Regions from separate parts of the Homo sapiens genome. Here region 1 is reported to be linked to region 2. The links are microRNA targets in miRTarBase. Many come from high-throughput screens and were not tested one by one. Region 2 holds a microRNA gene; the other region holds the end of a gene's coding sequence.

What was found. Region 2 holds the annotated microRNA hsa-miR-5687 (UUAGAACGUUUUAGGGUCAAAU, at 812-833, opposite strand). A microRNA usually pairs through its seed, bases 2 to 8, with sites in the 3' UTR of a target mRNA and lowers its output. Matches are read on the target gene's strand: a 7mer-m8 pairs with bases 2 to 8, a 7mer-A1 pairs with bases 2 to 7 and ends in A, and an 8mer does both.
Region 1: miRTarBase lists PURB as a target of hsa-miR-5687. The part of its 3' UTR that is shown has no 7-base or 8-base seed match.

What each region holds. Positions count from the first base shown.
Region 1 is chr7:44,881,931-44,884,930 of GRCh38, forward strand. It overlaps PURB (purine rich element binding protein B), which reads right to left. Exons shown (of 1, transcript NM_033224.5): 1 at 1-3,000. The coding sequence ends at 2,480. Among named protein-coding and RNA genes, the nearest start is that of MIR4657, 1.6 kb to the left of the region's middle. RefSeq lists an enhancer at 2,672-3,000.
Region 2 is chr5:55,508,048-55,511,047 of GRCh38, forward strand. It overlaps MIR5687 (microRNA 5687), which reads right to left and starts at 879; the gene lies at 803-879. The region is part of intron 1 of PLPP1 (phospholipid phosphatase 1); the gene reads right to left.

The DNA.
Region 1 (3,000 bases), not on the chromosome of region 2:
AACCCCTTAAAAAGGAGAGGTACTGCACCTTTGCAAAATTGAACTGGCTCACTGCAGCTGAGCAACAGAACCACCACTGAAGCAAGAAAACAAGTTGGTCTATACAAGAATTGTACATGGTTTGAAAATGAAAAAGTTACAGCAATCAACTAATAGCTGCAACTTAAATTTTCATTGCTGCCTCAGAGTTGAAACTTAAATAGTTTCTGCAAACCTAATGCTAGCTTCTCAGCTCCTTTACTAAAACTATTTAGGAATTTGTTCTCCGCAGCAAAGAAATAGACACTCAAAACACGTAGGTAAATACAGCAGGACATTATTGAAAAACAGCTGCCTTGTAGTACAAAATACAGTACAAGTATACGGATGTCATTAAAACATCAAAAATACTATTGCTCCCATACAATTTAGGAAACATTCTTTGCAACGGAGAAAAATTTAAAAGAAAAGCTTTAAAAAAATCTGTTTAAAAATTCTACTGTGGATGATGAGAGTAGAGAAATAGTCTGAAAAGGGCACCAATGTTTGTGGCTCTTCCACTTTTTAATCTAAGATCAACAATATTCTGCATCATAATCTATTTTTTTAAAAAAGCCTAATTTTATGTACACAATTATTTCCCGCCCTCTCAGCCACAAATACATGAAAACCTTTTTGTATATTACTCATTTCCCAATAAATACAAAAAGATTGTATAGATTGAATAATACCAAAATAAGATAATAAAAAGGATATGCAATAAATTAAAAAGGCAGCTCAAATAAGGGGCAGGCATGCAGTTTAAAAAAAATACTAAGATTGTGGAGGCGGGGTTACTTGCCTCCTGGTTGAGAAGGTGTCACACAAAGAATACCTGAAAACTTTGGAAAGAACGTTAGCTCCCATTCAATTCAAAGTTACCTAGGTCTATGACATTTCTAGGAATACCTTTTGATGGGGTGGGATTAACTTGATTAGTAAAAATCATTTCTACTGAAAATCCATTTAAAATATAGAAGAGGCGATCCTTGAAAACCCCAACTTTTATTCTTGAAAGACAGCTGGATTAACTGGCAAAAGCCAGTTTGTTGAAATTTCAAGATGGTATAAAAATGCTTCCAGGATATAGTCAGCATATTCACGTTCACTTCAGTTCCATTCACAGATGGATTTCAGCTTCCACCGGGTGCACTGCTTGAATCACTCATCCATCATTTGCCAACTCTGATTGTGAGGTACTGATACAATGGATCAAGTTCTTAAAAATTTTAAAAGAATAAATGATGCTGGAATTCTGGACCTGAGGATCTTTAGTATTTGAACAAATCCACAGATTAAACTGAAGGTAAATTAAGACTTCAGTTTTGGTTATTTCCAACTTTTCTGTGAGGATGTATATCCATTAAAGCTCAGGCTTATAGCCACACTGTTACTTTTGTAGGTAATCTTCAAGTTTTATGGTTTAAAATCCAGCCAACCAGTGGCTGTAACAGCCGAATTAGCCATAATTCACTGGCTCACACAGTGGAGATCTGGCTCTCATTCATACCAAAGCATTTCTTGGTAATGACCTCCATATTTAGAGATCAGGGGAACAACTTTAGTGAGCAGCAACCAATCCACTCAAACAGTCTGCCTTGTGCTTTATGCCTGACTTTTTCTTGTGCCTACCTCAGCAACCCCCAATGTAAAACTGCTTTTATCTTTGAAAATTTTTTGTCAACTTTGAAACTATTTTAGTAACGGATTCTACTCCAAGCATTGCTATCTGAATCCACTGGCATCCTGGAAAACAATTCTGCGAAGAAAAGACATTTGCCTTGGTCCAGGTTCCATGCAAAACCATTTTTTTAAAAAAATGGATCCAATTTGGTTCTGTATTCTTAGATGGCTTCTTGAAATCTTATCTTTAACCTGTTCATGATTATCCCAAGTTGCATTTCTTTTCGTGAACCTGAACCCTCAGAACTGGGTAATTGTAAAGGCCTCTCTTCTCAAGGATTCCATGAAGACCTAGATCCAAAATGCTGATTTCAATGGAGGTGAAGGGATAGACACCGCAACAGTGAGGCCTAGAGAGATCTTTTATGCCAGATTACCCAGGTGCAACCTAAATGCAACTGTTATCAATGGTCTGGGTAACTTGGACATGTTTCTTGCCCTGGATGTGCAAGGATCTATTCCCTCCAGGGATTATCCTGATGGGTTTACGAACCTCAGTTGAGAAACAACAGAAGCTGAGACAATTTTACGCAGGTGAGGAGATGCTGTTTTCCTCTTTGCAGGTTGCTGTCAGTTCCTTGGAACTTGACTGCTTTTCTCAAGTTGTCCGTCACTGTTCTCTTACGATTATTTCTCTTAACTGTGTTACGTTTTGTTTTTTCCCTCTGCGGCCTCCCTTGCTCCCTCTCCACTAGCTCACTGGGGATGAGCAGGAAAGGGAATTCTCTAGCCAAGGGGATGGTGGTTGGGTGGAGGCCTGTAGGGGAAGCTGCCCGTTTCAATCCTCATCCACCTCCTCACCCTCTGACTCTTCGCCGCCGCCGCTGCCCCCACCACGTCGCTCATAAAGCTTATCCCTCTGTCGTTCCTGGATTTCTTTCATCTCATCCGCATACCGGCAAAAGGCGCCTCCGAACTTGCCCCAGGCTTTGAAGGGTACGGTGATGGCATTGCGGTAGGACGGCTTCACCTCGCTCACTCGCAGAAACACCCCGTATTTGTTGCAGCCCACATCGAAGAAGAAGCGCTTGGAGTCCACGGTGATGGAGGTGCCCTCCGGGAGCTCTCCATACAGGCCGCCCCCTGGGCCCCCGGCGCCGCCTCCCGGGCCGCCTGCCAGCTCGTCGTCCTCGCCTCCGTAGTCGTCTATGAGCTTCGCCAGCGCGTCGCGGAACTCGATGAGGCCCTGCGCAGGCAGCGCGATGGTCTGGCCGCTCTGCAAGCCGCCCGGCCCGGGGCCCGCGCCGAAGCCGCCACCGCCGCGGTTGACCGTTTGGCGGATGCGCAGGAAGCGGCCGC
Region 2 (3,000 bases):
GGGTTTCACCATGTTGGCTATGCTGGTCTCAAACTCCTGGCCTCAAGCAATCCTCCTGCCTCAGCCTCCCAAAGTGCTAGGATTACAGGCATGAGCCACCATGCCTGGTCTAATAATTCTTGACAGAAGGCCATGCCCAGTTCGCATGACCTCCCCAAAGGGACCCAGGGCCTGCTACTCTCCACAGCTATACAAATGAAATATGAAGTTTATTTCTTCCCACTTCCCATTCTCTTTGGCCCTGATGGAAAAGATATGGCAAGCAGGAAGAAAGTGAGATAAGACACTGTGGGCACCTCTATGTGTCTGGCACCATATTGAATATTTATTTTCATTTAATTCTCATAATTCTAAAACACATGATCCAAGAAGGCACAGACATTTCTGTTTTGTTCACCAATATATCCCAAGTACTTAAGTCATTGCCTAGAACAAGGCAGGCCTTCAACAAATATTTGATGAATGAACAGTCATCCTGCAAAACAGGTATTATTATCCCCATTTTAAAGATCTGGGAGTGGCTCAGAAAGGACAAGTAACTTAATTAAAATCATACATATAATAAACAGGGTGAAATTAAAAATATTTAATAACTCATACTTGTACCAGCATCGGCCACTCAGAACAGACACTAGCTGGTGCTAGAGGAGCTGGGTTCTGCTTCAAACTTTTAGCTGAGGTATCATAGGGAGGTCCATAGAAGGGACTAAGACAATGAAGAGTCATGGGGCAGGGGAAGTGAAGACCCAGGTGTACACTGGCTGTCAGCCTCAATAGTTAAGTGGTGCACTCAGGATTCCAACCTGTACTTATTTGACCCTAAAACGTTCTAAATAAAGTGGGTACCATTTAGAAGATTTCAGAGTCAGATAAGTGAGGAGAGCAGAGAACAACTAGAGCTTTTAATAGAGTAGAAAAAAACTAGTCAAAACAACTACAATGTGAAATGGAATTAGAACTGAATTTAAAAATTGGTAACTGAACTCAATCTGCTGTTAGACAACTAAAAAACAGGATGATTTCACTAAAGTAACGTAGAGGGGAATGAGTAACAAAGAGAAATAAATGTGAATGGGCAAAGCAAAACTACAGCATGAAGGTTTTCAATTTCAGGTAAACAATTTGTGTATGTTTCAATAAGAAATGAAAAATCAACACTGGTTCTTGAGCAAGAAAGCTGTGCTTCAGGACAATGAATTTGTGCAAGGTATTGGTAGGGAAGGGGCAGAGCCTGGTGGCAGGTGAGAGGTATCAGTGATAGCACTGTACAGTATATTTGAGTGTGATTCACAGAGATGTTATGAAAAGTGTTAACAGGCAAGAATTCAAAGAACAGTGCACCCTCAACTTTTAGAGGCACCTACATTCTGGTCACTTAGCTTACAGTCACCATCTCTCTGTGGCTGACATGGTTTTATTATAAAAAGTTCTTCGTTATCTTTTCTTTTTTATTTTAAAATTAGGATAAAAGGGAGAAAAAGCAGTTGGGATATAGGATATAAGTGACACTTACCAAAGATGGTTTTTACATTTGTAGTTTTACGTCAGTAATTGCCTACAATATCCTCAACCTTGGAGTAGCTTAGTTCATTAAGACACTTAAAATAAATTTGTGTATATATTTAATGAGCTTTTAAAAAATCACGAGCTATTAGGGCAAGTTACTTCACTATGGACTCTCACATTTCCACACAAATAAAAAACAAGTTAACCTATTTATTTATACACTAACAAAAACAAAAAGCAAACCTTCTCACCTGTTGTTCCCTTCCCAGAAAGGCACAAGAAAACAGTGCCAACTGGCCAAGAACAACATTAATTCCTTCCACTCCCTCATGGTACAGCTGTTCGCTTTCTTTCTCTTCCCTTTTAAGATGGCAAAGGTCACAATCAGTAGTAAACCGGCCACGTGATTTTTATATGTCAAAAGCAAGGAGATAACTGAGGTAAAGGGTACTGGGAGAGACAGCTGATTTTTTTCAATTGTACTTTCTCCTGGCCACTTATCGGGAAACTATTTAGGGCTTCCATGGTATTTGAAGCTATAACTTAATAACTTCTTTGCCAAAAAACATTCTGTTTACATGGAACTAGGGTTAGAAGTGATATAAGCACATTTAGAAAGGGACAAAAACCTACAGCAAAACTGTACAGTAACATTTACATCACAGTACTTGGCATAATCAAAAACGCATTATGCTATGTGAAAGAGACTAGACTCAAATGGCTACATACTATATAGCCTTTATGATTCCATTTATATGACATTATATGACATTCCATTTATATGACATATAGGATAGAGAACACATCACTGTTTGCCAAAAGTCAAGGCTGGTGGGAGGAGCTGACTACAAAGAAGAAGAATGAGGGCACTCAGGGAGGTAACACACCAATTCAGTATCTTGATTGTATCTGGTTACAGGACTAAATTCCATATTATCTGAATTCACAGAACTGTACACTAAATGAGTCAATCTTACTATACATTTTTAAAACACAACAATTAAATTTTAGCTTAAGCCTCATCTCACCTACTCCTCATACCTATTTCAAACCTCTTGACATGCTCTACACAATGACCCCACCCCCTCCACCTAGCTAATGCCTACTTGCCATTCTAGCTTCCATTCAGCTACTGGTGGAACCAATCCTTTGGTGTGCCAGGGTGGAGTACTGGACAGAGTTGGGTAGTCAAGTATATCTGGCTGGGTTTACTTCTGGCTTTCTCCCAGTTACTACTTGTGGGAGCTTGGGCAAATTACTTACCTGTCTGAGCTCAGTTTCCTCATCTGGTAAGTAAGAATAATACTGTGTACATACCTCCCAGAACTGCTGCAAACTAAGAGCCTAGTAATGTGCCTAACTTAGTGCCTGGCACATTAAGAGGATTAATAAATGCTTACTCCCTGATCTTTCTTCCCTGCCTACTGCCCTCACAACCCCTGCTCTCTTTCCGAGCCCCCATGGACCTTATACATATATAAACCTATCACAACA